Homo sapiens: one gene and its partners. The protein of the gene in region 4 interacts with the protein of the main gene of each other region in a biochemical or structural test. Each region holds a gene or a part of one and is shown on either strand. Other genes may lie near its edges.

Region 1 (7,024 bases), on a different chromosome or scaffold from region 4:
GTGTGTGTGTGTGTGTGTGTGTGTGTGTTGGGGGTGAGATGGGAGTGGGCAGACCTGTATGGATTCTGCGGTGAGCTTTCAGGTGAGAGCTTTTGGTGTACACTTTGCTGCATCCTGCAAAGTCACATTGGTGAATCCGTCTTCTCTTCAAGTCAAGCGACTCTTCTCCCTGCATTTGGGCCATTGCTGCTGGTCTGATCAAAGAAATAGAGATAAAGCCAAACAGTGACTTTAAAGTGAAGGCTAAAAAAATGAATTTACATTCATTGGTGCCACATCATATCGGCTTTTAATTTACGTGAATTTAATGCTAGGTCCCCCCAAAAAGAAATAATTGGAATAGTAAAAACAATTCTGTCAACTAGGCCATTCTGCTCAGTAGGTACAGGTCCCTCAGTAGGTGCTCAGAGAAAGCATGGGAGGTGGTAGTGTTTCCTTCAGTGGTTGTGTTCCCAAACAGTGTGAGCATTTCACTTCAATAAGTTTCATTTTCCTGCTTAAAGAAATTTGTTTTTCATACAACAGTTGTTGCTAAACACAAGCCAACTACTTCCAATTAGTTTCAATATTGAAAGACAAAGCTGTTTTAAACTTACAGAGAGAAACAGTACATAACTACACTTTATGGGAAATTTGAAGATTTTTCAAAAGAAAAATTGATGATCTACAGTTAGAACATAGCTCTACTATAGCATGCATGTACATGCACATGTGTGCACACAAACTCATATACTTTCACTGGAAAGGCAGTCTCCCTATATTTCTTGTCCTCAAATTCTTACTCTTGTGTCTGATCATTAGTTCCACCTATACATATGTGCAAATGTACACACACACACACACACACACATACACAAAGACAGACTTGAAGACAAAAAGTACTCACTCTTGCTGTAGTCCCTGCAGACTCTGCAAGGCTGAGGATCCACTCTCAATTGTACTCTCCTCACTGTCACTTGGAATTTCCAGTGGAGACATGGAGGTGGGGTCAACTTTCACTAAAAGCAAAGAAAGGGAGCAGTGTGAGCTGAAGATGTATGTGCCTCTTTAATCATTTTCAGGATTCCCAGTTTGTCCCACCTTAAGAAGTGGCAGCAAGACAGAAAAATAAAGAAATAAAAAACAAGATGAAAGAAGTGTATTTGCATGGAAGGAAGAGAATAACATTTTATTTTTTTTTTTTGCATAGCAGGGAACAGAAATGCCTTTAAAGTAAGAGTAGTATGAAGAGTTCTGATACCACTATGAGTGGTATCAAATGAGAGTGTCTCTAGGATGTGGTCTGGGTATGATTCATCTTTCTATCTCCAGCTACCAGGACAGGGTCAGCTGAAAAGTTAGTTTCAACGTGTGTGTGTGTGTGTGTGTGTTGAATTGAACTCACTGAATAGCTCCTGGCTGTCCTAAAATCAAATTCTAGGATTAGTCCAGATGTGAGAACATCCACCTTGGCCTTTGTGCTCCTAAACAGAAATAAGTCAATGAGATGAAACGTATACCTACCACCTAGTAGGTGCTTGATACAACCTTCCTTTCCACCTATGTTGGGAGAAGCTGTCAAATATTCCTTATTATCAACCCCTGATGTTTCTAATTCCTAAAAACTCAATCAGGTGGTCAACAGTCTCCTAGATCCAGTGAAACCTTCAAAATTTCTATAGAGAAGAAACTTGGGGGTGGTGATAAGGTGGGGAACAAGTATTTGGTTAAAAGAGTTGTCTCTATACTTTGCATATCATTCACTAAAAAGTTTTAAGCATGTATCTTGAGGTGTGCATGTTTGTGCATGTATGTGATATACATGTATCGGTATCCTACAATTTTGTATACATTATAAGAAAACAAACAAAAAGTAGTATGTCATCTCACTTAAGTTAGAGTGACTATTATCGAAAAGACAAAAGACAGTAAGTGCTGGTGAGTATGTGGAGAAAAGGGAACACTTACACACTGTTGATGGGAATGTAAACTAGTTATAGCCTTTATGGAAAATAGTATGGAGGTTCCTCAAAAACTTAAAATTAGAACTACCGTATGATCTGGCAATCTCCCTTCTGGGTATATATCCAAAGGAAATAAAATCACATGCCCAAAAGATAACTGCATCCCTGTTTAGTGCAGCATTATTCACAACAGCCAAGATGTGGAACCAACCTAAAATATCTATCAACAAATGAATGAATAAATGAAATGTGACATATATATATATACAATATAATATTATTCAGTTATAACAAAGAATAAAATCCTGCCATTTGTGAGAGCATAGATGAACCTGGAGGACATTATGTTAAGTGAAATATGCCAGGCACAGAAGGACAAATAGTGCATGATCTCACTCATATGTGGAATCTAAAAAAGTTAATCTCATGCAAGTAGAGTAGAATGGTAGTTACCAGAGGCTGGGGTGGCTAGTGGGGAGGGGGATGGGGAGATATTGGTCAAAGGATACGTAATTATAGCTAGATAGGAGGAATACATTTCAAGAGATCTATTGTATAGCAAGGCAAGTATAGTTAATGATGATACATTTTATTTATTAAAATTGTAAAGAGAATGGACATTAAGTGCTCTCACCACAAAAATGATAATGAGGTAATGCATTTATTATTTAGCTAGATTTAACCATTCCACAATGCATATGTACTTCAAAACATCATGCTATAGATGATTAAAACATACAATATTACCTGTCAATTTTTAAGGGTAAGAAAATACAAATTTTGATACTTTCTTCTTGCACTCCAATTGTTTTATATGTGCCCCCTAAGGTTTAGTAAGCCCCCCATTTTGGATACTGATGTGGTTTGGCTGTGCCCCCACCCAAATCTCAACTTGAATTGTATCTCTCAGAATTTCCACATGTTGTGGGAGGGACCCAGGAGGAGTTAATTGAATCATGGTGGCCAGTTTTCCCCTGCTATTCTCATGATAGTGAATAAGTCTCATGAGATCTGATGGGTTTATCAGGGCTTTCCGCTATTCTTTCTTCCTTTTCTCTTGCTGCCACCATGTAAGAAGTGCCTTTTGCCTCCCACCATGATTCTGAGGCCTCCCCAGCTATGTGGAACTGTAAGTCCAATTAAACCTCTTTTTCTTCCCAGTCTCGAGTATGTCTTTATCAGCAGCATGAAAACGAACTAATACAGACACCATTGGGCCAATGCCCTTAGCTTGGAACCACATTGAGCACATTTAAAATTTATCCTGTTTATTTAGAGTGGCTCTGATGGACTGATGATATTATGGGGACTATTCAAAGCTCCTTCAAACCATCCTTTGATGTTACCACTGCCTTTATCTCAGCATAAACTGTCACACGAGGAATTTTATTTCCTTTTTTGTTTGTTTCCTTTTTTTGGTTTGTTTGTTTGGCTCTCCCTTCATATATGGAATGGATATCACATCTCAAAATAAGATTATGAACACTTATCATTACCACAATTAACCACTAGTCAATAATAATATTTGTATTCAGAAGACCAGTGCAGAGTCTCAGCAACTTGATGCTTAGTAGTATGTTGTTTTTCAGCCTCCTACATTTAGTACAGGGCATCAAATTTCAAGGGTAGATACTCTTTTACAGTAAGCTGAAATCTGCTTCCTAGTCATTTCCACCCCTTGGCCTTTCCGATTTATGCAAAACATTATCAGCCTGCTTTAGAGGCCACATAATTTTCCTTGATCATTCCTGATTACAAACTAAAACAGATATACCTCTGGGAGGAAAACTAGTGGTTGGGGGATAGTGGTGGAAGAGAGACTTAATTTATACCTTTCTGAATTCTGAACTTATTTTAAAAATAAAATAAAATGGAAGATTATAGCATTTGAATTCTCTCTTGGACAAATTTTCAAGTTTGTTTGTTCATCAAATTATCTGTTGCAAGACAACTCCTAGCACTGTGTTAAGTTCTCTGGAGGCATACATAAAAAAATTAAGATAGAGTATTATTTTTCAGGAATTTACAATTCAGTTGTGAATAATGCCCAAACTCTTGTGATACAGGCAAATAAATAAGTAAAATGGAAAGTGATAGATGCCAAATGAGGAAGAACACAGGGAAGATGACAATATTTCAATTACTTCTTTTGTAGGGAAGAGAAAAGGGAAAGTATTGGTAGAGGCAGGAGCTAATACTGGCTAAGTATGTTTGAGATAGAAATATTGTTCTCAACTTTCCCACCAAAGCATTCTGAATGGCATAAAATAAACACATTCTCCTGAAAAGTCCGAGGGTGGATGCCTTTAGTAAGCTTCAACTATTTTTGAAGCATGTGGTTTATCTTAACAGGTTTTTAAATTTTGCATTTTGTAATACAAGATAATCATATTTTAAATATAAAATGCTTAAATTATTTAATATCAAATAATGTGGAAGTTCCAGGAAGTTGTTTGATATGTCACTGATAGATATGCATACTTGTACTTGTTTGAGAAGCATGGTCTAATCAAGACTCATTGTACATTCTTAAGCATTAAAAAGACATAAAAAACAGTACTTTTGAAAGATTACTCTTGAAGCAGTGTGCAAGAATAATTGGAGGAAGTGAAAAGAGACAGGAGATAGGATGACTCTAAAAGGGAATAGATTCAGGAAGGCCAGGAAAGAGGCAATATTGTTACTTACCTGATCCAGCATTTTTACCATCTCCTCCAATGAGTGGGACTGTAATGGCTGCAGGGCCCCCATCTGCAGGCAAAGTAGTATACACCATGGGCAGAGACTGCACTACCACTGGGATGGTCTTCAGGCCACCCATCTTATTTGGCAGACTGACTGAGGGGATAGTGTGAATGACATGTAAGATCTGCTGGCTACCAGTGCTCTGAGAGGAGGTCAGGACAGAGCCTGGGGTCAGAACAGTAGGAATGTTTGCTGAAGTGCTCATGTCAGATGTTGACGTGGACACCACAAGGGTCTGGGGAGAAGACTGTGGCTTGGGGGGACGTATTGGAGCTTGTAGCATGCTAGCAGGCTGGAGAGGAGCCTTGGGCTTGTGAAAGGAGAGGTCAACTGGTTCCACTTGGGGCAGGCTGAAATCACTAGCCAAAAGTTCTTCTGGGGGCTCAATCTTGATGTCATTAAACAGTGCTGGGTTCTCCATGGGGTTGGCATCCAGGAGTGTTGGAGAAGTCATATTACTTCTGTATTCTATCTCAGGGGGATCTCTGTTCCGAACAGAAGCAGTGACCTTAAATAAATAAACAAATGAGAGATGCATAAGTCAGTGTTAGTACCCTGAAGAGACATGCAAGCAATGTAAAAAAGAAATCTCTATTCATTTCACATGGAAGGAATACATGGTGCTGGGAGAAATAAGGCAGGAGTAAACTAAAGAGAAAAACAGACGGGAAACTTTACTATCTGTAAGTACCAGGTACTGTATCCGGCAATTGTTAAAAATTATTTCATTTAACGTTCACAATAATCTTGCAAAATTATTTAAAGTCAACACTTTCTGAGCATCTACTATAAGCTCAGTGGCAGCACACATCAATAAAGTACAGCCAATAAGTACATACCAACATATTAAATATAATGATAGAATAATGTGAATAGTTTATAAATCATACCATAATAAATAATGTAACAGGCATACAAGCAAGGCGTTTTAGAAAAACAAAAGGGAATGACTCATTCTGACTAGAAAGGGAAGGCTTCAAGGAGGAGGTGATATTTCAGCTGAGTCATAGAAAATTAATAGAAATTTTCTAGGCAGATAAGAGATAAGAAAGATATTCCTGTCTATAGAGCCATAACAACAGACAGTATAATTATAGAATAAACTATGAAATAAACTTGCAATACAGTTAGTTGTATTATATGCAAAATTGAACTCTGCAACTTTTTAATTCTGGGATTTTTAAAAAAAACTAATAAATGATCTAAATGATCATAAATGATTTAAACTAATAAATAAATTTATTAGTTTAAAAAACCAATTTATTAGTTTAAAAAACCAATAAATACATTTATTAGTTTAAAAAACCAATAAATACATTTATTAGTTTAAAAAACCAATAAATACATTAGTTTAAAAAACTAATAAATACATTTATTAGTTTAAAAAACTAATAGTTTTTAATAAAAAACTAATACTTTTTTTAAAAAACTAATAAATGATCATTTATATGTAATATATGAAATAAAGCCTCAACCTAATTAAAAACTTTCTAAGAATTCCATGAATTCAAAGGTCAAGGATATAATGAACTGTGTATGCCACTGCCAAGCAACACTCTGGATCTTGAAGATGATTTTGGAGATGGTGGTACCACCTCTTTAGCCAGTAAACAAACAAGCTTCCATTATCTATCAGCATGATACTTGAATTATGGGAGTTTTAAATTATGAAAAATGTTAAGGAATACATCCTTTATATAAAACATAACCACTTTTAGTTTTGTATATTTGGAAGATGAGGAAAGGTAGAGTTCAATGAAAGGTTGGGTGATAGAAGATAATTGTTTGGAAGAGAGGAGTAACAAGGGAAGAACTATTTCTGTGAGATTTAACTAGCTTCTTAATGAAGATTGATTGAAAGAGGAATAAAACTAGATTCAAAGACATTCAAAAGAAAGCAAGTGGAAAAATCTCGATGAGACATGTAAAAATATTTGAGTATTGACTGGATATTGGACAATATTAATGAATTAGTTAATTTTAAGGTGTGATAATTATGTTATGCTTATGATTTTTTAAAATTTAGGTGAGAGATAATAAGGGTCTGAATTCAGAGAGCAATAAGTGGCAGGGGAGGCAGTGTCTTCTTGCTCTGACTTTATTTTAAAAACCCTCAGAGCGCTGCAGTGATCTATAATCACACCACTGCACTCCAGTCTGGGTGACAGAGCAAGACTCTGCGTCAAAAACACATGACAACAATGCTCAGAGCAGGCTGGGAATGAGTAACGGCACCAAAAACCCATCCGTGCTTTGTCTCCAGAATTTGGCCAGACTGCCATCTTCTTTTCCCTTCTTTTATGCTACAACACTCTTGGTTTCTTGATTTGCCAGCA
Region 2 (8,018 bases), on a different chromosome or scaffold from region 4:
GTTTTAGTAACCTTGGATAAACCGACCTCTCAGGCTTGCACAATTTGCTAATTAAAACAGGGAGCACAGCTGCTTCAGTTGTAAGCCGGGCGTAGGTCACCTGATCTGTAAAACTACAATAGTGTCAGAGAAGTAAGTGGGATAACATTGTTGCTTTGGTAAGCTTTCAAATGATGATGATGTCAGCCTGTGAGTTCTGTGTCCTGCTTAAGTGAGGTTTATAAGGATGAAGAAACCAAACCCGACGGCCAGTACCTCAGGCTGTCACAGCTGTCTGTGGGCACAGCGTTTGAAATAGTCTCTGTGTGGTCAGTTTCTACCAGCCCGACTTTGTACTCTGGCAGCTGCTGGTGTTAAATATTCCCAAAAGAGTATGTTGTTGCCCAAACAGTGTAACCCAGAAATCTAGCTGTTTACAGTAATTTGGATTTGTATTTAGAGGTGCAGTTTTTCTCTAGAGGGGATAAAGAAGTGCGGAGCGTCTTTCTCTCCTGGGGGAGGTGTGTTTCCATTTTAGTTAATAACATGCCCGGAGAGCTGTCTGTCTGTCTGTTAATAAAGCAGAGTCTCATTCATTATCTGCTTTCATTTGAGAACTGCAGTGCTAGCGTGTTTTACAGTGAAGACCTCGGTGTGATCCTGAAGGAGGGTTTCATCCTCCTCTCATTTCCCACTGGATCGGCAGGAAGCGTTAGCAGGGTGGACATGCCACAGAGCTTCCAGATCTGGATCAAAGGTGGCTGTTGCTGAAATACTTATGCAGAGTCTTCCCTGACTGCTGCTGGCTAATGTGTGCCCTCTTCTCCAACACACCTCCTCCGAGCCTGGCCTGGCACAAAGCCTTCTTTCTCCAAGTTATTTCAGATCAAGCAGCCAATGTAGACAGTGTCTACACTAAAGGGCGTAAGAACAGTGGGGTGCAGTGGCTTCAAACATGCTCAGGATCCAGCTGAGCTTTCACCAGGCTTTTCTTGCCATATTTACAGATGCCACTCTGTGCCTTTCTAAATATTTTAAATGTTGTGTGCTCAGCCGATGCACTTGGCTTCTGGAAAGTGCGCTGAGCTGAGAGCTCGCTTCTCTTCCTGCTCAACGTGCACTGGGCCGGGTGTTGGGGCGTAGCTGCCCACACAGACAGTGCTTTGAAGAGTGAGTGGTTTCGGTTGGCCATGGGGTTGTGTCTAAATTGCCAATATACTGTCTTTCCAAAGGTTCCTAAGTGTGGACAGTTAATGCAGCAGACAGTTGTTAGGGTAATAGTGAGAAGTTGGGATGCTTAACAAGCTTCTAAGGAGTTTGAACTTTGAAAAATAGACAAGAGAAAGAGTTCTTAAAAAAAAAAACTTTGATAGGACACAGCGGAAGTAATTACAGTTTAACTTTATGGGACGTTTCTGTGACAGGCTGGGTAACTATGCTTGTCATGCGTCCTAACCTGTGCCCTGAGATTGTGCTGTAATGTTCCTTTTGGTGGTGTCCAGCTGTCTGGCAAGGAGCCTGCTCGGCTGGAGCATTGTGAAGGGCATGCTGTAATTACAATATTGTGATGTGGCGTTGTTGCATAACTCAAGGACACACCATTGTCGCCTACCCACTGTGATGTCGCAAGAACGAGATTTGTGAGTTTTACTCCAATTGAGCTTTTCCAGTGATTGACTGCCACTCCCTCCCAGCCTTTCGGTTCTTTAAAATGAAAGATAAACCTCAGGACAACCAAGACCTGGGGAAAAGACAGTCTTTGGGAATGTAATTTGGAAGAATGGATCCAGAAAAACAACCAGGGGCTCTTAACTCTAGTTTCGGCAGGAGATCCCGAGTTACAGACCTGAGCTCGTAAACAAACGCTCACCACTTTACAGTCGCCGCCTCATCCTGAAACTCCGGTCAGAAATGCTGGAAGGCCTTTGCTAATGCGCAGTGAAAATTAGGGGCACAGATGTGGACGGACTGTGCTTGGTCAGTAATTGTTCTCCTCCAAATCAAGTTTATGAGAAATTTCATATAAGGAAAAAAACCCTTTTGTATCTGTGTCTATATGTACAGAAGACCTTAACAACCAAACAGAAACTTAACCCCTTTGGTTTGGTTTTGTTTTCGAAAGCTTATGCCCAATTTTAAACTTCATGTAAGCTTATGTACTTATTTTAAACTTTAAAACTATTAAAAGTTAAACTAGATAGTAAATTCGGCACTGTCTAATGTGCATACACCACAAACATATAACCCTAAATTCAGCTGTGTCTAATGTGTATACACCACACATATATATAACCCTAAATTCAGCCTGATGTACTTATACCACACATATATAACCCTAAATTCAGCCTAATGTACATATACCACACACACATATATATAACCCTAAATTCAGCCTAATGTACATACACCACACATATATATAACCCTAAATTCAGCCCTAATGTACATACACCACACATATATAACCCTAAATTCAGCCTAATGTACATACACCACACATATATATAACCCTAAATTCAGCCCTAATGTACATACACCACACATATAACCCTAAATTCACCCTAATGTACATACACCACACATATATATATGACCCTTACCTCTTGTTAGCATTTATTGTAGTTTGTTTTTGAGGTTAGGAGCAGTTAAGCAATAATATGAATTTGTGTTGGTTTAACTTTTATGAATTTTAGGGCAGAACAAGGAGTTAATTTCCAGATAAGCTTGTTCATGTTCTTAGAATAAAGTGTCAGCCTCATTAGAAGTTTTGTAATCGTGGTCTGCATCCCAGCCATGCACCTGCTGGGTCCTGAGTAATCCTCGGAGCCCAGAGCAAGGCAGAGCAGACACGGAGCAAACGCTGCGTTCAGCTGGGTATTTTAGATACGTCTGAGAAGAGTTTTAAAATAAAACTTGAATTTGAAAAGAAATAGTGAGTACTTACCAGAGGTGGGCAGTGCTGGGATGTGGCCGGTCTTGGTGCCGGTGGCTGGCGGTGCTCAGGAAGCAGTACCTGTTCTCACGCTTGCTGGGTGAAACTGGAGCCTGCTGTTCCAGTGGGAGGGATTTAAGTGTAGGAGTTGAGCCCTCGGGGCGTAGAGATGCACCTGATATTCCTCCTGCCCGCAGCTACGATTCATGTGTTTGCACCCACCGAGCTGCTGCGGGCAGCCTCCCCAGCACTGGACCCAGCAAGCAAGTTATCTCGCCGACTCCCAGCGCTGTCTCCAGACTCAACTGTCTGTGAGTGCGGCGTCGGTGCTGCCTGGACGGCCATATGTCAGAGGGCTTTCGATGTGTCCGCAGTTAGAATAGAGATTACTATATTCATCAGAATCACACCCGATGAATATTTGGCGTCATGATAAAGACATGTGAGACTTTCCTTTAGAACTTGAGCATGTGTACGCAGGAGGCAAACACTTGGATTGATTCTCAAGCGCGCATACCCTGGGAGGCACAGTATTCATGGCGTCCTTGCCATGAGGTCCAGTGAGGCCTTTGAGGATCTGTGGACCTTCCACCCTCTACCCTGCTCCTGAGAGTCTCTGTCCCTGGTCCTCCTCAGGAGCTGAGCCGGCAGGGAGGGAGCTTATCCCAGAGCCTGGCTGCAGGGACCTGCCGGAGCTTGCCCGACACCAGGCACCGCAAGAGCTGCGGAGCAGGGTGTGTGGGTGCGGGGGAGGGGGCCAGCTGTGCACTCCCGCAAACCACCCTCCCCCCACTTTAAATTGCAGAGGCACTTAACTTGGGGGCCAGTTTTTACCTCCACACCCCCCCACCAAAACTGCTTGCTTGCTTAATCGGAGGCCGCACCCCAGTTGTAGCGAAGGCTGGCATGTGGTGTCGGTTTGAGGACTGGGAAAGGAGGTGGGATGAGCTGGTGTCAGGCCCTTGGATGAGCCTGAGGCTGCAGGGCAGAGGCTGCAGGGCTGTGGCATAGGGACGAGCTGGCCAGGACAGACAAACTGGTTTTTTTTTTTTTTTTTTTTTTTTTTTTTGAGACAGAGTTTCACTGTTGCTGCCCAGGCTGGAGTGCAATGGCATGATCTTGGCTCACTGCGTTTCTCCTGCCTCAGCCTCCCGAGTAGCTGGGACTACAGGCGCCTGCCACCACGCCCGGCTAATTTTTTGTATTTTTAGTAGAGATGGGGTTTCACCGTGTTAGCCAGGATGGTCTTGATCTCCTGACCTTGTGATCCACCCACGTCGGCCTCCCAAAGTGCTTGGATTACAGGTGTGAGCCACTGCACCCGGTCTGTTTTTTTGTTTTTGTTATTTTTTTCCTTAAGACTTAAGATTTTACATGGCTTTGCGTTTACTTTTATATTTAATTCCTTTTTTTTTTCTTTTGAGACAGGGTCTTGCCCTGTCACCCAAGCTGGAGTGCAGTGGTGCGATCACGGTTCACTGTAGCCTCAACCTCCTGGACTCGAGTGATCCTCCCGCCTCAGTCTCCCCAGTAGCTGGGACTACAGGCACGGTCACTATGCCTGGAGAATTTTTTGTAGAGACAGGGTTTTGCCATGTTTCCTAGGATGGTTTAATACCTTAAAATTTTTTTTGGTGGCTTTTGTCCATTGAGACATCCATATACTTTATGAAGTCAAAAAGAGTTATGTAAGTCTTATGACAAAAAACAGCAGTTCCCTGTCCCTCTTACCTATTCCTGGATAGCAAACTATCCCAAACTTAGTGGCTTAAAACAAGCACCGTTTTATTACGTCTTAGGATATATTGTGTCAGGAGTTTGTGGAGGGCCTGGCCGAGTGCTGCTTCTGTTTCATGGACACTGACTGAGGTGGCTCCGTGGGAGAAAGCTGGCAGGTGACTGGTCTGGAGGGTCCAGGACAGCTTTACTCACCTGCCTTCTGTCCTGGAGGGGCAGCTGGAATCCTGAGATCAGCTGGAACCTCATCCTCACTTAGTAGCACTTCAGAGGCCTCCCTAGCAGGGTGGTCAGCTGTATGATGGCTCAGGACTTCAAGAGAGCAAGGCGGAAGGTTCCAGTCCTCCAGAAGGCTGGGCCGCAGATTGTCAGGGTGTCCCTTCTGTCACCTTTCTCTGCTGAGGCAGCCTCGTGCTGCCCAGATGCAAGGCGGGAGCCGAGGGCTCCACCTCTCAGCGGCAGGAGTGCCAGGTGTCTGCGCTACGACTCCCTCTGCCCGGAAGCCCCACCTTGGCCTTTCCTAAGCTGAGTGTTCTGACCCTTGCCATGGAGGGTCCAGTGAGGCCTTTGAGAATCTGTGTACCTTCCACCCTCTACCCTGCTCCTGAGAGTCTCTGTCCCTGGTCCTCCTTGGGAGCTGAGACGGCAGGGAGGGAGCTTATCCCAGCGCCTGGCTGGGTGTTTACCTCCTCGATTCCAGCCTTACTGATCTGTTGGTGGTTCTGTGCCCTCTCTCCCCCTCTCTCCCTTCTCCACTCCTGGTCGAGGTGTTGTTTGGTGGCTTCCCTTCATGGAAGATGGGAATTTGCCTCTCTTTGCCCCTTCTGCCCCCATGTCTGCCTTCCCCGTCACCCAGGGGGTTTTGCCTGCCTCTCTCTTGCACTGGAAGGCCTGCTGCTCGGATCCCATGTCGTCTTTCTCTTGAGTTAATCATTTAGTTTGACATGAGGCACACACCTTTTATAGGCTCTTGAGAAAGTGCAAGAGAGATTTTTTTGGAGGTCTTGAATTATTGAAAATGTTTTTATCTACTCTTCAACCTCACTGATAGTTTGGCTGAGTCTAGAATTTCAGGCCAGAAATCATTTACCTTCAGATTTTTGCAAGTGTTCTTCATTTTCTTTCTTTCTTTTTTTTTTTTTTTTTTGAGATGGAATCTCGCTCTGTCACCCAGGCTGGAGTGCAGTGGCGCGATCTCGGCTCACTGCAAACTCCACCTCCCATGTTCACGCCATTCTCTTGCCTCAGCCTCCCAAGTAGCTGGGACTACAGGCGCCCTCCACCACGTCCGGCTGATTTTTTGTATTTTTAGTAGAGACGGGGTTTCACCGTGTTAGCCAGGATGGTCTCGATCTCCTGACCTCGTGATCCGCCCGCCTCGGCCTCCCAAAGTGCTAGGATTACAGGTGTGAGCCACCACACCCGGCCGCAAGTGTTCTCTATTTTCTCTAGCTTCTAGTACTGTGGTTGAGAACCTTGATGCCATTCTGATTCCTGATTCTTTCTCTCTTAACATTTTAGTGTGAAAATTTTCAAAATACAGACAAGTTGTAAGGATGCTCCAGTGAACTCTCATATGCCCAACGGTGGGGTTCTCCAGTTAACACAGCTGTCTGTGTTCCCTTCCCTTCCCCTCCCTGTCCAGCTTACTTACCCTTCCCTTCCCCTCCCCTCCCCTCCCCGTCCAGCTTACATACCCTTCCCTTCCCCTCGCCGTCCAGCTTACTTATCATTCCCTTCCCCTCCCCGTCCAGCTTATATACCCTTCCTTTCCCCTCCCCATCCAGCTTACATACCCTTCCCTTCCCCTCCCCGTCCAGCTTACTTACCCTTCCCTTCCCCTCACCATCCAGCTTACTTACCCTTCCCTTCCCCTCACCATCCAGCTTACTTACCCTTCCCTTCCCCTCCCCGTCCAGCTTACTTACCCTTCCCTTCCCCTCCCCGTCCAGCTTACTTACCCTTCCCTTCCCCTCCCCATCCAGCTTAATCGTCTTGCTGCATTTCAGGTCAGTTGCAGACATCAGTATGCTTTGCCCCAAACACTTTTCAGGCATATTCTTATTAGTTTATGATTCTTCTTTCAAAGGTAAGGTTTACATTCAGTGAAGGGCACAGGTCTTAAGAGGATCATTTAACGAGTTTTGACAAATGTGTTCTCCCATTATGGCCCCAGAGAGTTCCGTCACAGCAGTGCCACCCTTCCCCACCCAGACCGTGGCAACTGCAGGCTGATACTTTTCCACCATGGATTAGTTTTATGTGTTGTAGAATTTTATGTCAGTAGTGATTCCTGATTTTTATGGACAGCTGTTTCTCACCTGCAGGTTCTTTCCTTTATCCTCAGTAGTCTTAGTTTTCTTAACTTTATATTTCAACACTTCTGTTAAGTACTTGGTTTCTGATTTTGGTTTCCATGAGCTCTGTTTTGTTCTGAGTGTTCCTTTTGTAGCATCTCATTCTCATGCAGTACTTTCAGTAGCTTTTCTTATCTAAGGATTTTAGTGATAGCTTTCTTTTAGTGGGGAGTGGAGGAGTGGGGGTGGATGTTCTCCGTGTGTGTGTGTGTGTGTGTGTGTGTGTGTTTAAAGACCTGGGGTCTTGCTGTGTTACCCAGGCTGGACTTGAACTCCGGGTCTCAAGTGCTTCTCCTGCCTCAGCCTCCCGGGTAGCTGGGACTGCAGGAGCGCCATGCCATGCCTGGTGCCCTCCCTGCATCGTCAGTGTGGCTGCCTGCCTTCCAGGGCCTCTGCTGAGCACCTCGGAGAGTCAGCCCTGTCTCCTGCCCCAGTGCTCCTTGGGTTAGGCCTACCCTGCCCCTCCCCACAGAGTTCTCTGGTGCCACAGATCTGGAGCTTTTTAGGGACCTGTCCTGTGGATCAGGGGGAGTCTGAGTTGCCTCCCTCCAGGGGAGGGCTGGGCTTCTTGGTCTGAGGCATTTCCTGCTGTCCCTGCACTTCCAGGCTCCTCCGTGGTCCTGGTGCTGCCTTCCCTGCCCTTCCTCTTCTACCCTGTAGCTTATTTCTTGAAAAAAGAAAATGGTCCGTTTCTGCTGTTTTTAGTGGGATTTTACCCGCTATTTTTTACATGTTCAACCCCCTGTGTTACTCAGAATTCTTGCGATTAGGTTTTTGACCAAATCTTAGGAACCGTCATGGGGGTGGCAGCTGATGTTTCTTGCGTGTTGATGGTGTGGGGCACCGTGCCAGGTGCATCACCTGCACTGGTCCATTTACTCAGAAGCACCACGCACCTGGCCTGTGGAGTCCCCCCACCCACAGGTCGGGAACATGGCCGAGGTACCCAGCCCAGAGGGCGATGAGCAGAGTTACACCAGAGGTGGGGGGTGCTTCCCTGGGTGGGGAAGGAG
Region 3 (7,024 bases), on a different chromosome or scaffold from region 4:
ACGGGTCTTAAGGAAGCGCAGATCCCATTTAAAGGATCCACAGCTGCTAGGACAGTATTTAGCTCACTCATACCTGGTGGCGTTGAGAAAAGTTTGCCTATGAAATGCCTGTCAAGCAATGAGTGATTTTTTTTTTTTTTTTGAGACGGACTTTCGCTCTTGTTGCCCAGGCTGGAGTGCAATGGTGCGATCTCTGCTATCTCGGCTCACTGTAACCTACATCTCCCGGGTTCAAGCGACTCTCCTGCCTCAGCCTCCCGAGTAGCTGGGATTACAGGCATGTGCCACCACGCCCGGCTAATTTGGTATTTTTAGTAGAGACGGGGTTTCTTCATGTTGGTCAGGCTGGTCTCAAACTCCCGACCTCAGGTGATCCTCCCGCCTCGGTCTCCCAAAGTGCTGGGATTACAGGCGTGAGCCACCACGCCCGGCCATGATTTCAAGGAATAATTCAACACACAATAATGTTATCATCACTTGGAAAAAATAAGGCGAGGTGTTCAATCTTGGAAAACTTACCACTGAGACAGGGTCCATGGCCTCTTGCTTGACAGGAACTGGGTCAAACATGAGCATTCTTTTAGTTAAACCTTCTAGGGTGCTCTGGTGTTTGGCCTAGAAAACAAAACAAGGTATCCATCTAAGTCTCAAGGTTACTTTAAATACAAACTAGTAAAAATAAAATATAGCCTGGGCAAGGTGGCTCACCCCTGTAATCCCAGCACTTTGAGAGGCTGAGGCAGACGGATCGCCTGAGGTCAGGAGTTCAAGACCAGCCTGGCCAACATGGTGAAACCCCGTCTCCACTAAAAATGCAAAAATTAGCTGGGCGTGATGGCACTCGTCTATAATCCCAGCTACTCGGAAGGCTGAGGCAGGAGAATCGCTTGAACCCAGGAGGCGGAGGTTGCAGTGAGCCGAAATGGCACCGCTGCACTCCAGCCTGGGTGATGGAGCGAGGCACTACCTCAAAAAAAAAACATAAATAAATAAATAATAAAATGAAATATAATACCTCACCCCACTTCTCTACTCCTTTTTCTCCCCTACCCCTGGAATGGCTGGAATTTGTTTCCCTTACCTATGAAAGATGCCATTTACATAATTAAAACCAGACTCCATGGTCATAACCAGATGAGAGCCAACCAGCATTTCTAACTCAATACAGAAACCCTGACTTTTCTGGAACACTATGTACAGCCCCTTCTGAGCGCCAAAGCTTGCTTGGGATTGCCGTGCAACTCTTTAGGGGTTCAGATTACATATGACCGTTAAACACCTTCCCTTTTCCCCGATGTTGGTCGCAGAAAAATTAGGGGAAAAAAAGACGAGCAAAAAGAAAACCTAGAACCAACCATCATTAAAATTTCATTTTTATTCTAACAAACCCTCTTTAAAACTGGGCTCATAGTGTACATGGTATTTAGTACCTATCATTTCACTGAACAATTTATGTGAAAATGTTTCTTTTACAGTAAGTATGGTTCTGCACCAAGTATGGTTCTGCACCATCAAATCCCCCGTGCCACTGTGTGAACACATCAGTTTACTTAACTTCTTCCTCTTTATTAGGCACTTAGGGTTGCTTCTAAGTTTTCGCCATTACGAACAGCAATGAGCCTCTTTAAATATATCCTCCTGCACACCATTAATTTTTAGGATAAGTTTTCTGTAGGGGAATTCCTGGGTGAGAAGTATATACATTTCCCAAAGCGCCTGATGCCATCACCTGGCAAAGACGAACTATTATTTTCATTAATAAAATACAACCTGTTTCCCCAAACCTCCACCAGCAACATGTGTTATCACTTGTGTTATAAAAGATAAACACCTTGCCAACTTGTTAAGTCTCAAGATGGCAAATGATTTTTATTCTAAATTGATTTGGTTATTGAAGTTATTTTTTTTCAGCTCTATTGACCATTTGGATTTCTTCTTTTGAGAAATGCCTACTTAGGGCTTGACAGCCTCCACCACTTCTTATTGTTTTCTAAGCACTTTTCACATATGAAGAATATTAGCTTGTTTTCACTCAGATTTCTCCTCATTAGGAAATGAGCCTATTGTAAAGGAAATGTCCACCTTGATCCTGTCCTGTCTTTTTCTTCTGTTGTTCTCTGCTTGCCATCCCTTCTATTTTCTTCTGTGTTCTGTACAGTCCACTTCTAACACTAATCTACATCAAGCCAACTGCTTCTTCACAGGACAAAATATTCAGTCTGCTCAATGTTCAAATGTGTCTCCTCAGTTACAGAAACACTGTCCTGCTACTAGACACACTTTCAGAAATCGACTTCAGGCACTCATTAGCCAAATTTGGTTTAAGTGCTCAGTGCTTTGGTTAGAGGTAAGGTCTTCATAGATCACCCTGGTTTGAGTGGCAAAGTGAACAAGTTCTAGAGTGAGTTCCAGCTGAAGAAGCTGCAGGAATCCCGGGTTCTGGATTCCTTCTTGTATTTCAGTGTTAAAAACCCCCATCCCCACCTCCATGATAGCAATCCTATAATTTGTTGTGTTGGTGCTCTACGGGTTATACTAAGATATCTTCATATACAATGATGGAAGTGATACTATGTCGTTCTTGTGCTTCGTTGATTCATTGAAGAAAGCCTGTTTTGAATCTCATGACAACACACGAATTTCATCAATAACTCGACATAAGGCCTTGACTTCAAAATTATATTTTCCTCCATCACAGGGTGTATTGTAATCTGCAAACACAATTTGATACCAAGCTGCTCAAATCAATAGTGCTACTACCCTCTTATGTATTCCAGCAAGAACTAACCGCAACAGCCAGTGAAAAATAGATGATTTCGTAATGAGGGATGAAAACGCTTTTGTGTCTTGGGATCTATTATTAAGCAGTTCCCAGACTAGCAGCTGTACGGATGAACATGGTTCTAAGAATTGTTGTCCAGTGCCTCACAGTGGACCATAAACAAAAGATGTGAGATCTCCTGCTTACATCAATGAGGTCAGATCATTTAGCAGCCCTGACTCACGGCTGGTCACCCTGTGGCAGCCTCCCACCTCCTCACCCCCAGCTTTTTACACTGAATTCACTCTTCCAGACTCATCTATCCCACTAGAGAGTATCTTGATGCAAATGCTTCTAAATTAAAGCATTCACATTCTCAGGTGTATAAGGAAGGAGCCATGGTTTTGAGACTCAAGCAGGCTGCAAACTAACGCAGCCATGGGGCAAGAGTGATCATTTGTAAAATGCAGAGCATGGCTCCCTATCTGCTTCTCAAGGATTTAGGTCTATCAAGTGAGATTAAAACACACACACACACACACACACACACACACACACACACTCCTTTTGCCCTCATTTATATCCATATGCACATAAAATCTGGATGTATATTCTGTACACACAACACTAAATGTGTTGGTTCCAACTTCCGGAGCAAAAATGTCTGGCGTTTGCCTCTTTGCTAACATACACTAGCCTTAGAGGTCTATCCCCCACCCTTAAATAAAACTCTGACTAGATTCAGTTTCAAAGTTAACAGCTGCCTACATCCTGTATGAGGTCTCATATAAGGCCTTGTCACTTCACAACTGTACCACTGCAACAACAGCTTCTGAGCGAGGCCAGCATCTCCCCACTTCATGTCATCCTGCACGCTTTACGACCACTAATTGCAGCACAGCAGAATAAATTAAGATGATGGGCTCTGGAGTTCCTTTTCGTTCAAATTCTAAGTCTACCATTTAGCTCACATAGCTTTCAATGACTTTGTCTAATGCCCACAGCAACGACTACTGAATCCTTTTAGAAATGAATTACACATTAATGTGCTACATCTTTTTATCATTAAGACATTATTTAAATCACTATTGTTCTTTAATTTTTTGTTTTATCTAAGTTTAAGGAAATGCAAGACTTGTAATCCTAAGAGAAACATAGTCTAGTATAAAACGCTGGCACTGACTGGGCGTGGTGGCTCATGCCTGTAATTCCAGCACTTTGGGAGGCCGAGGCGGGTGGATCACTGAGGATAGGAGATTGAGACCAGCCTTGCCGACGTGGTGAAACCCCGTTTCTACTAAACATACAACAAATTAGCCAGGTGTGGTGGCGCACACCTGCAATCCCAGCTATTCGGGAGGCTGAGGCAGTATAATCGCTTGAACCCAGCAGGCGGAGGTTGCAGTGAGCCCAAATAGCACCACTGCACTCAGCTTGGGCAACAAAAGCGAAACTCTGGTCTCAAAAAAAAAAAAAAAAAAAAACACACTGGCACTAACAGAACCTGATTTGCTTTTACTAAAAAATAATTACAAGGGTATGTTTATTTGCCCAGAAATGTACCTCAAAGTAATCCAAATGTTGATGAAGGGATGTTCTCATTACAGAAGTATTTAAGTTAATAAACAAAGAAGGAATGATAGGATTAGAATACCTATTTTTGAAATTCCTAACTAAATAATGCATCCCTGGACATTAAAAAAAAAGTCCGTGCAAAATTCAAATATCACAAAGAATAGAATCAAACTCACTATTTCACATGTCTACAAGCACTTTGTTTCCAATTTGGTAGCTTCTGATAATAGCTTTTAAATGATGATGCTTTTAGTGATAGTCACAGGATATAAAACAAGAAGATAAAGGACATGCAAAGAAAACGTCTGGAACCACACACCCGAAACTGTTAACAGGAGCTTCTTGGGAGTGGCGGTGGGTGGGACAGCTTTCTACACATCTGTGTTCTATTTTTAAAGTTTATTATTTATATGTATTTTTATTTTGAGATGGAGTCCCACTCTGTCACCCAGGCTGGAGTGCAGTGGAACGATCTCGGCTCACTGCAACCTCTGCCTCCTGGGTTCAAGGGATTCTTCTGCCTCAGCCTCCAGAGTAGCTGGGATTACAGGCATGCACCACCACTCCTGGCTTAGTTTTATACTTTTAGTAGAGACGGGGTTTCACCATGTTGGCTAGGCTGGTCTCGAACTCCTGACCTCAAGTGATCTGCCTGCCTCAGCCTCCCAAAGTGCTGGGATTACAGGTGTAAGCCACTACACCCGGCCAAGTTTATTATTTCCATAATCAAAACTTTTAACAAAGACAAGATAGGGAAGCCAAGCTAGGAAGGAACTAAATTTAGAAACAGAATCAAACACATGAACAGAAATGAGGCTTCTGTTTATGTATTTGCAAAAAATTTCTATACTTTGCACCCATATCTCTGACTACAGGGACCACTTTTGTCATTGGTACTAATTTGTTTACAGGTTCTGATCTACAATCATAAAAGAGTGACTGTACAGTCTTCAAAGTGCCTTCCACATAACTGAGAAGTAACTTAAGCCCTGGAAGAATTAGGGTCCCTAAACTTGGCAGTCTTTGGTACCCATGGGCGGCTCAGTGCACTGGGGTTATTACCATTCTGAAAGAATGCTAAGTAAACCACAAATGCTTAGAAAATCTATCATACAGTACTGACGGCAATCTGAAGCAGAACCAGTAGGTGGCGCACTAAAACAGGCATTAGAGACCAGGACACCGGCAGTAAATCAATCCAGTTGGCCAACCTCGGGGTCTTTAAACCTAGTGGGTTTTAACCAGGCTCAGGAATTCTATTAATCATTTTATGTGGGTATCACAGAGAAGAGGAGGCTCTAAATGTGGTTCTATTTTTTTCTGACGACTATTTTCCAATCATAAACACATTTACATCTTCATTATATTTAACTAGCTTAGCTAGCTTTAGAAATACATTAGCTAGTCTTAGAAATACATTCTAATGCTAAACTAAGCAATACCAGGATAACAAAACTGCATCCAAAAGGGGGGGGAAGGGCAAAATTGTTTTTATGAAAAATTCTAAGTTATTGAGGTGCTTAAAAGCAAAAATATACAGGAACATCACCACCGCCAAAATAATTTTCCATAACTGGAGCAAATGCCATCTTCCCCAGCTGTGTTATTTTGCAGAGAAAGGCCAATAAAAATGAATGGTCCTCAAAAAGGAGAAACAGATTTCCCTTCATGCTCTTTCCACCTGCACTTCTGACTTTTCAGATGTTAAAATAAGGGTCAAATTTCTGTCAAAATGCAAGACTGCGTGATTATAGATTAAAAGGGTTGGTGAATCATTGACATGAAGTTTCAGAAGTAATGCAGTCCTGCTTTGGAGCCCTATCCAGTGGTGTCTGAGACCTATGCACAATGGCTTTATGGAGTGGGGAGCGGGGCTGCAGGTGAGCTGCAGGGCTTAGAAACACACACACAGTCCTTCATGGAAGACGAGGTTAGGGGGTTACTAAACCTCCTCTGAAAGCAGCTTGCCTGGAGGCTAGAGCATGATTTATTACAGAAACGACCTTACAGACAACTGCCTGCCCCTTCCTGAGGGAGGAGGAAGGTGGAGAGAGAATGTGTACGTATCAGGAGCAGTTTCCTGTTTCTTGGGGTTAGAGCAAGACCTGCCTCTGACGTTCTCCCTTCTCATCTCCCTATTTCTTCCTTTCTCCATGCCCTCATTTCTTCCCACAGATCCTCAAAGGGTGCCTGCATTATCTTCCCCAACCCAGGACTGACCCCGAGGCTCCAAATCACCTGCCTTCCTCCAAGCAAACTTCCGTCTCCCAGCTGACCTCGGCTAGGCATACGGAGCAATACACTAACACACCATCGCTAAGCCTCCCTTTCAACTCTTCTAAGTTTTTGGATTTTTCAAAGAGAAAACATGTTATCTTCCCCTACCCTTACTCCCCAAAGGAACTTAAGGCAAAAAAAGAAAAAAAAAAAAGGCGGTGTGTGCATGTGTGTGTGTAATTCTTGGCTAGGAAAACTGGGCAGGCAAGCAACATCCCTGTAGCTAAACTTCCTTTCCAGAGAAACTTTTCTCTCTTCGTTTCTTTACCCAAATTCTTCAAAATCCCCCAATGGCTCAAGTATTATTTAAGGACAGTTGCCCTAGCCAGAAATACAGGGGACAGGCAACAGATGTCAGCAGGCATTTTTAAGCTGGAGGCTCCCTGAAACAAAGCTAAGCACTGGCACCTA
Region 4 (7,024 bases):
TTGGTTTTTTGTGCCCCAGGGGTAGGGGACCCCAGTTACATCCCTGTGGAAAGCAGTTATTAGAGGGAATTAAAAGATCTTGGGTTTGGAGCTTGTTTTGAACCTGACTAGGTGGTTTGGGTTTAATTCTTTTTCCTGTTCAGAAAGATAAGGTAAAGAATACCGACTCCCCCCCGCTCTTTTTTTTTTTTTAACCCCCACCTGACAACCCCCTCTCTAATTGTACCTTAATAAGAGTCTGCAGGTTGAATGCAGAACCCTGTGAGTTATTTACGGTTTCGCCTGGGAGCTTTGAAACTGACCCTTGAATGGGTGTTCTCCTGCGGGGAGGGGCAGGGTGAATTACCTTTTCTTAACTGATTTTAAAAAGCCTCATTGTCCCTAAAAATCATTTCCTTGCACGAGTTGCAATTTATGTGTGGAACTGAATCATCAATTCCGTGAAGAGAAAGATATTCGTAAAGTACATCTCTCTAAAGTTAAGAAAGTAAGAACGTTTGGCTAGTTAAAAACAAACACTACTGCCATTGTAAAAAACACGCCAGTGACATACTTGGTGAGATATTTTGGCCTTTTGAGAGTCGGGGCACACCTGTTCCTGTCCCTGCCAAGTTGTGTGTGCTTTCCCTGCCATTGTTAATCTGGTCGTGTACACAAGATGAAACGGTAAAACTTGCTATCTGTATAATTATTAACTAGTTTGTCAGTTACCCTTTCAGAGAATAATCAATAACTTCAGTCTTAACTTTTAAAACTCCAGAAATTTTACTTTTTAAGTCTGGAAAATGTTTCAAAGAGAGATTAAATGAAACAAACAAACAGCAACAACAAACAACAAAACCAGAAAATCAACCTACAACTTTTTAGTTTCTGAGTAGCCAGCTACAAGGCAAAGAAATGATGAATATATATAGTATGTACTGAACAAGCAGTGCACTGGATTTTAAAATGATATTTTTATTGTTACCATTGCTGTTAAAATACAAACAGCTCACACTATTTGAAATCCTTGAGATTCACGGATTGAAAAAAAACCGAAAAGGACACCTCTGAGTGAGGGAGTAGCCCTGCTGAGATCTAGCACCAGAATGCCATTTGCCAACAGTTCACTAACATCATGAATCATTTTTGAAAGCAAAGTTATACCCTTTGCACTTAACGCTTTCCCTAAATGGAAAAAATTTAAAGAGTTTACAGCAATGGTAGAATGGCAGCCCCAGTTGTCATTTTTTTACCACTGTCATTTCCATAGAGAGGGGCTGTCATCATAATGTATGTGCATGCAGCCTGGGTCCCTCTGTTAATCTATCAGGGAAAAGCAGCAGCCCTAGTGTCCTGTGGCCCTGAATCAGGCCACAAATATATATTCATACAGCACATGGTTGGGAAGGGAAATTTATCAGTTGGGCAGGGCACAGCTCAGGTAATATTTCCACTTTGGGATGGTAGGTCTGTTACACAGGGTGGAACATATTTTTGTAGTAACTAAAAAATGGGAGGGCAGTGTGTCTGTCCCTGGAAAAAGAAGTATTTGTACTTAATGGAAGTGACCCATGTGGTGAAATCTCGGGGTGTCTTTTCCCCAGCAATCTTTCTATGAATTGCTAGGGGAGGAATGCTTGTGTGAACTTACCCTGCTGAAAACTTTTAGTGGGCACATGAAATGCTGGAATGGATACACTTTTAGAGACTGTGCGGCCTGGCAGATATCAGTTTTCTCCCTTACAGCTGGTAAGCATGTCTTAATTTACGCTGCTGCAAGTTAAAGTTACAGCACTCCTGGAAAGAAGGGAAAATGCAAGGCTTCTCCTCCCCACCTCATCTTTTGAAGTTAATTTTCATTCAAGTCTGTGTTTGATGGAATATGTATCAAAGACTTATGAAAGAGTTTTTTTTTTTTTAATCCTATCTTGGGGTTTGGAAAATTATATTTAATAATTGCTAAAAACTTAAGAACCATTTTAAAGGTGTTCAGTGGCCCTTTTGATCATGATTTAATGGAGAGTATCCAAAAGCCATCAGTGTGACTCTAATGATATTCACAAATTAATGTTTGGGCATAATCTGGAGTTTGCTTTTAGCTATCATTATTAATGTTTAAAGCCTAAATTATGGCTGCACTTGGGCATTCAGAACTTCGCCTGTGAAAAGAAGGGCTTTGCACATTGTGTAAAAAAAAAAAGGGGGGATTCACAAATGAATACAGAATGTACAATAGGGAGAGAGCCAGGCCATTGTTTGTGTGGAATGTTGACCATGGGAGCCAAGGGCTAGTTTCGCCTTCATTCTTCTGACTGCTGGAGAACACAGAAACTTCAGGAGCTGTGGACGGGATGGGAACCAGGGGCACATTCATCCGTCTTTGCCGGGCATGGAGATTTGGCCTGCCCCCTTTCCAGAGTTTTTCTTAGAAGGTGGTCTTTTCTGGACTGCTAAGGAACGTCGTGTGCTTTCTCTTCTCAGTAATCTGCTTTTTTGAGGAACGATTTTAACGGCAGATAGTAAGAGTTCCTCAAGGAAAGTAAACAGACCTTTTCTACCCCCTCGAAATGTGATTTTAGGAAATGATATTCAACTTCAGAAAGGAGGCATCTTAAGTCACAGGAGGAAGTTGTGTTTATTTTTACTCCTCTCCTGACTTTAAAGTAGTTTTTAATCTGTTGGTAGCATTAGGGAGAATGCAGCTAAAATAAGTTTTTGCTGGATGTTCATGTTTTGCGTAGCTGCTGCCATTTCGGAAAAAGCTCCTCCCCCATTCACAAAGCCCTTCTCCTTCCACGTGGGAGCCGAGGTCCCAAAGTGGAACCAACTCTGTAGCTTAAGGGAGGTGCATTCCTGGCCCCTCACTTTCTAACCCTCACCTTAAGTGGAATATGTAGATAATATGTAGATCATTAACCATTGTTGGTGTCTGAAGCCTGTTCAGTTTTTTTAGCAACGACACTCGGTGAGAACCAGTTGTAGTTTGCATGTGTATATGCCTAGTCCCTCCCTCAGTGAATGTTTTAGAAAGTGATCTGCTTTAGCTGTTTACCTAACTAAATTTAACAGATGGTTGCCTAGAGTTGGCTTAATATTCACAAAAATTGTGATGAAATGGTTGGGATCTTATGAATGGGACAAGTGATGATTTTGTTTCTATAGAGAATTGTGACTTTTGTCCTAGGTAATAATAGAGACTTCGTTTTTCCCAAAGATCGGTTGGTGTTTAAAGGATGGGAACCCTGAATAGCTGCTGTTGTCTGCCCCTGATCCTGGTGGTGGCCAGCCTTGCCTTTGGTTTTGTTGCCTTCTGTGAGTCCAGAAAAGCCCTGGAGGCAGGGGTGAGGGGGGAGAGGGAGGGCTGGGCTTTTCATCCGTGGGGTTCTAAAAATCCTTCTCATTTATAAAATACAAAAATACTTACCTTCCATTGTATTGCTGATTTGTGCTTCCTCCAAAGCTCTCCTCTGATCAGCAGAAATGTGCTTCTTGCATTAAAACAAATCCTTAATTATGACTAAAAGAAACTGTCAGCTGCCTTAAAGATTGTCTGGAAATAGTGGCAATATTTCTGTGTCTCATTCCAGCCCACGTTGTGGCAGAAGCCTGGAAGGGCCACGTTAAAGGATGTGTCACAGAGACAGTGTGTGTAGGTCTTCCTGCAGCACAAGCAAGCTCAGGGCTTGTAAAGTCCAGCTTATCGTGGCTGTGCTCCAGCCATGCCTGAAATCTGGCCTCCAGCAATCTGTCCCGTCCCAGGACAAACAAAAACTTTATTATGGAGTCATGGAACCTGAGGAAGTTTCTCTGGAAGGAACCGAAGACCTAGACCGTGGAGGGAGATCAACTCCTCTGGCCTAATGGGGCTTTTCTTTTTCCAAGATGGAATTTAAAAATCTCATCTATAAAATGAGGCTAGCAAAGAATCATTTTATGGTGTAAGTGGCCAGAATCTAACCTGGAAGTGATAGTATTGTACCTGCCGCAGGTGTGTGTGTGGCAGCGGGAGGGTGGAGAGGGGAAATGAGAGGAGAAGAGTTTGGAGGGGAAAACAGAGCATTCGAGGTTTCTCTGCTGGAGGGGGTGAAAGGCCAGGAGTTTGTGCACCTTTCCTTTTAAATGAGCTCTAGCTGTGAGTTTATTATTTTGCTGATGGATGGTCTTTCGTGCAGTCTAGAAGTGCAAACACAGTCGGCTTATCCGCTGCTTGTTCAGGTCCAGGGAGACCAAGGGAACGGGTGGGGGCAGTGCTTGCAAATCCATCTGGATCCTGGACACCCCACTTGGTGTTGCTGCAGCCAGCTCCCAGGCCTGCCCACCTGGAGTACAGCCAGCGCCAGCAGCGGGCAGGGCCCGAGAGAGCTCTTAAAGCCATGTCCCAGGAACGGTTGAGGGAACTGAGAATGTTCAGCCTGGAGTGGAGACACCCCTGGGAAGCCCAACATTGTCCTCTGTGCGGTCATGTGGCCTTACTCTGCTCGGAACAGGGAGGCCTTGCTGTTGGAGCTGCCGGGCCAGATGGGCTGCGTGGGCTCCTGGCACAGGCAGAACTTGGCTGACCATTGGCTCCCAGTGCCAGCCAAGGCTCTGCAAACACCCGAGACCCTGATGGAGACTCAGGCTTTGGGAGCACCTCCTAATGAGCTGGGGAGGATACTGTGTTTTCTTCCCAGTGGGGGGTGACCAATAATCTTAAAGTTTTTTCCCTTTCTCCAGACGTTCAGCTGTGGTCCGCACTCTGGATTGCTCTATCTGCCCTGCGGACTGGATAGAGGCTCAGCGTAGATGCCCAGCTGACCTGACATTTCCTACCCATATTTCCTAGTGTTTCAGGAGCAGGCAGAGACAGACCTGATTCCTTTATCTCGGGGCTTTCAGATTACGGAATAGAAGTCACACTAGGAGGGCAATCAATAAAGAGTATATTTTGCTGTACAGATACCAATATGCACATATAAGTGCCTACAAGTAAAATCTGGGAATGTTTTTGATCTTAAAAACATTTCACAGTCATTAATCTTCACGACGCTCCTGCGGGCTGGGTAAATAGAGCAATTCCTATTTTATGCCAGGAAGAAATATTGAATTGCCTCCCCCAAGTCATAAAGAGGCTGTTTTTCCTCCTTGTTCCTGTGACTCGCGGTGTGGGGGGCCTGGGGCGCCTGGAACCCCTGCGATCCGCTCAGACTGACTCCAGGACGACTTCCGGTGTCCTGCGCGACCTTCTGTTGCGGGGAGCGCCAGTCCGCCACACCTGGCCGCGCTCTACCTGGAGGGGGCGGGGTCTCCTGCATTTCCCGGACCGCGGGGGTGCCCCACCCTGCTGCAAGGACGGGCCTCCTGGCGTCCGGGCTTCTGGGGTCCCGGGGTCCCGGGGTTCCTGGCTCCCGAGCCCCAGGTGAAGCCCCCTCCATCCCTGGGGTTCGCCCCTCTCCTCCCGGCGGGTGGACCTGGAGGCCCCGCCCCCGCGGGCCAGAACACCTGGCGGCGCGGCCCCGCCCCAGCTGTGCCCTCTTCCCCCCGCAGGGCACTTGGCGGCCCCACCCTGGCCCCTCCGCGGGCCGCGGTATCTGACACCCCCGGGCCCCCCCACCTCGCGCCTCGCCTTTACACTTGTAAATGGAGCCGCTTCCCGCCGCGGGGAAGTCGTTGAGAGGTGTGAGAATGGGCCCTGCCCCCTCCCCCCGCTCCGTGCCCACTTCCTCCTTCCTCCCGCTGGCCTTTGTGCTGGGCGGGGCCGCTCGGACCCGGGGCGGCGGGGGTCCAGCTAGACGCCGCCTCAAGCCAGCAGGGTCGCCGGCCCCTCTCCGGTCCGCGAGGCCCCGGCAAGGTAGGAGCCTCGAGACCACGCGGGACACCAGGTTGGCCCCCAGCCCGCACTCGAGGCTCAGAGCAGGGGCGGGGACCTGGTTGCACCAGGCCAGAGCCGCCTCCACCCCGCAGCGGTCGCGGACTCCGGGCACTCATGGGGACTCCTGGGGTCGTGGTGAGTGGTGAGGTTCGTTGATTGACTGCGCGATGGTGGCTGAGTTGCAAGCAAACGGTAAACAGCGGCATCATTTCCACTTGACCGGCTTGGGATCTCGTCTCCTGGGCAGTGTTTGGGGGTGACCACGGTTCTTGGATAACCTTCGAATCTGGGTGTTTTCCTTGTAGTACAAATAGCGCAGTGGCAGTTGCTGTGGGAAACAGCGAGGGCCACTGAGACCTTCAGCAGAACTCCACGTCGAGGACGAGTGACATTTGCGCGCCTCTGCTGCGTTCTCTGCTGTTCACCCCGGCGGCTCCCAACACCTGAAGCCTGGCGAGGCATGTGACTAGAGGTTGTCCGAGCGCAGAGTGGTAGGACGGTGCGATCTGGCCCGTTTCGTCTTGCCCTCGTCTTCTCCATGGAGGAATTTCTGTGTTCGCCTCTATGTTTTGCAGACTTAATTTGGTGCTCCAGAAACTTATGCAGCCATTCAAGTGCGCTCTACCTGTTATTCAAGTAACTAGAGAGCAACCATTTCTTGAGCACTTACTTAGTGTCTGGCACTAGCTCGCTGGGCCATTGTGTGTTGTTGCGTTGCCCTGACTCTTCATTGGTAAAACAGTGACTAACTATCACCTGTGCCTCTGCGAGGACAGCGCTGTGCTTGGCCAGGGCTGGAGAGCCGATCTCAAGGCAGGTGTCTGGCCTTTTCCTGGACATAGTGAGTCTGTGATCCAGAGTCTGACCCACGTATTCAACGGGGCCTGCCTCAGGCTTCCAAACAGGAGCCAGGCTGTTGTGAATATTCACTCCAAAAGTGCAGTGAATGTAAAACATCCTAGAGCAGGAAGTGAGGCAGGCCCCGTTGAATACGTGGGTCAGACTCTGGATCACAGACTCACTATGTCCGGGAAAAGGCCAGACACCTGCCTTGAGATCGGCTCTCCAGCCCTGGCCAAGCACAGCGCTGTCCTCGCAGAGGCACAGGTGATAGTTAGTCACTGTTTTACCAATGAAGAGTCAGGGCCAGGGAGCTTAGGTAATTAAGTCTGGCTAGTTACTACCAACTTC

The links.
Region 1: the proteins of CTBP2 (region 4) and KLF8 form a complex in vitro, tested with the Homo sapiens proteins (one study listed by BioGRID).
Region 2: the proteins of CTBP2 (region 4) and ZNF750 interact in far-western blotting, tested with the Homo sapiens proteins (one study listed by BioGRID).
Region 3: the proteins of CTBP2 (region 4) and KLF3 form a complex in vitro, tested with the Homo sapiens proteins (one study listed by BioGRID).

Annotation. Positions count from the first base shown.
Region 1 is NC_000023.11:56,263,352-56,270,375, reverse strand, and holds part of KLF8 (Krueppel-like factor 8), read right to left. Parts: intron 5,197-7,024; coding exon 4,632-5,196; exon of another isoform or gene 1,464-4,631; coding exon of another isoform or gene 1,423-1,463; exon of another isoform or gene 999-1,422; coding exon 887-998; intron 195-886; coding exon 55-194; intron 1-54. UniProt on the Homo sapiens protein: Transcriptional repressor and activator. Binds to CACCC-boxes promoter elements. Also binds the GT-box of cyclin D1 promoter and mediates cell cycle progression at G(1) phase as a downstream target of focal adhesion kinase (FAK).
Region 2 is NC_000017.11:82,837,004-82,845,021, forward strand, and holds the start of ZNF750 (zinc finger protein 750), read right to left. Parts: upstream 3,020-8,018; 5' UTR 2,924-3,019; intron 1-2,923. UniProt on the Homo sapiens protein: Transcription factor involved in epidermis differentiation. Required for terminal epidermal differentiation: acts downstream of p63/TP63 and activates expression of late epidermal differentiation genes.
Region 3 is NC_000004.12:38,674,178-38,681,201, reverse strand, and holds part of KLF3 (Krueppel-like factor 3), read right to left. Parts: intron 616-7,024; 5' UTR 577-615; coding exon 520-576; intron 1-519. UniProt on the Homo sapiens protein: Binds to the CACCC box of erythroid cell-expressed genes. May play a role in hematopoiesis.
Region 4 is NC_000010.11:125,150,562-125,157,585, reverse strand, and holds part of CTBP2 (C-terminal-binding protein 2), read left to right. Parts: intron 1-5,304; exon of another isoform or gene 5,305-5,380; intron 5,381-5,751; exon of another isoform or gene 5,752-5,812; intron 5,813-7,024. UniProt on the Homo sapiens protein: Corepressor targeting diverse transcription regulators. Functions in brown adipose tissue (BAT) differentiation. Isoform 2 probably acts as a scaffold for specialized synapses.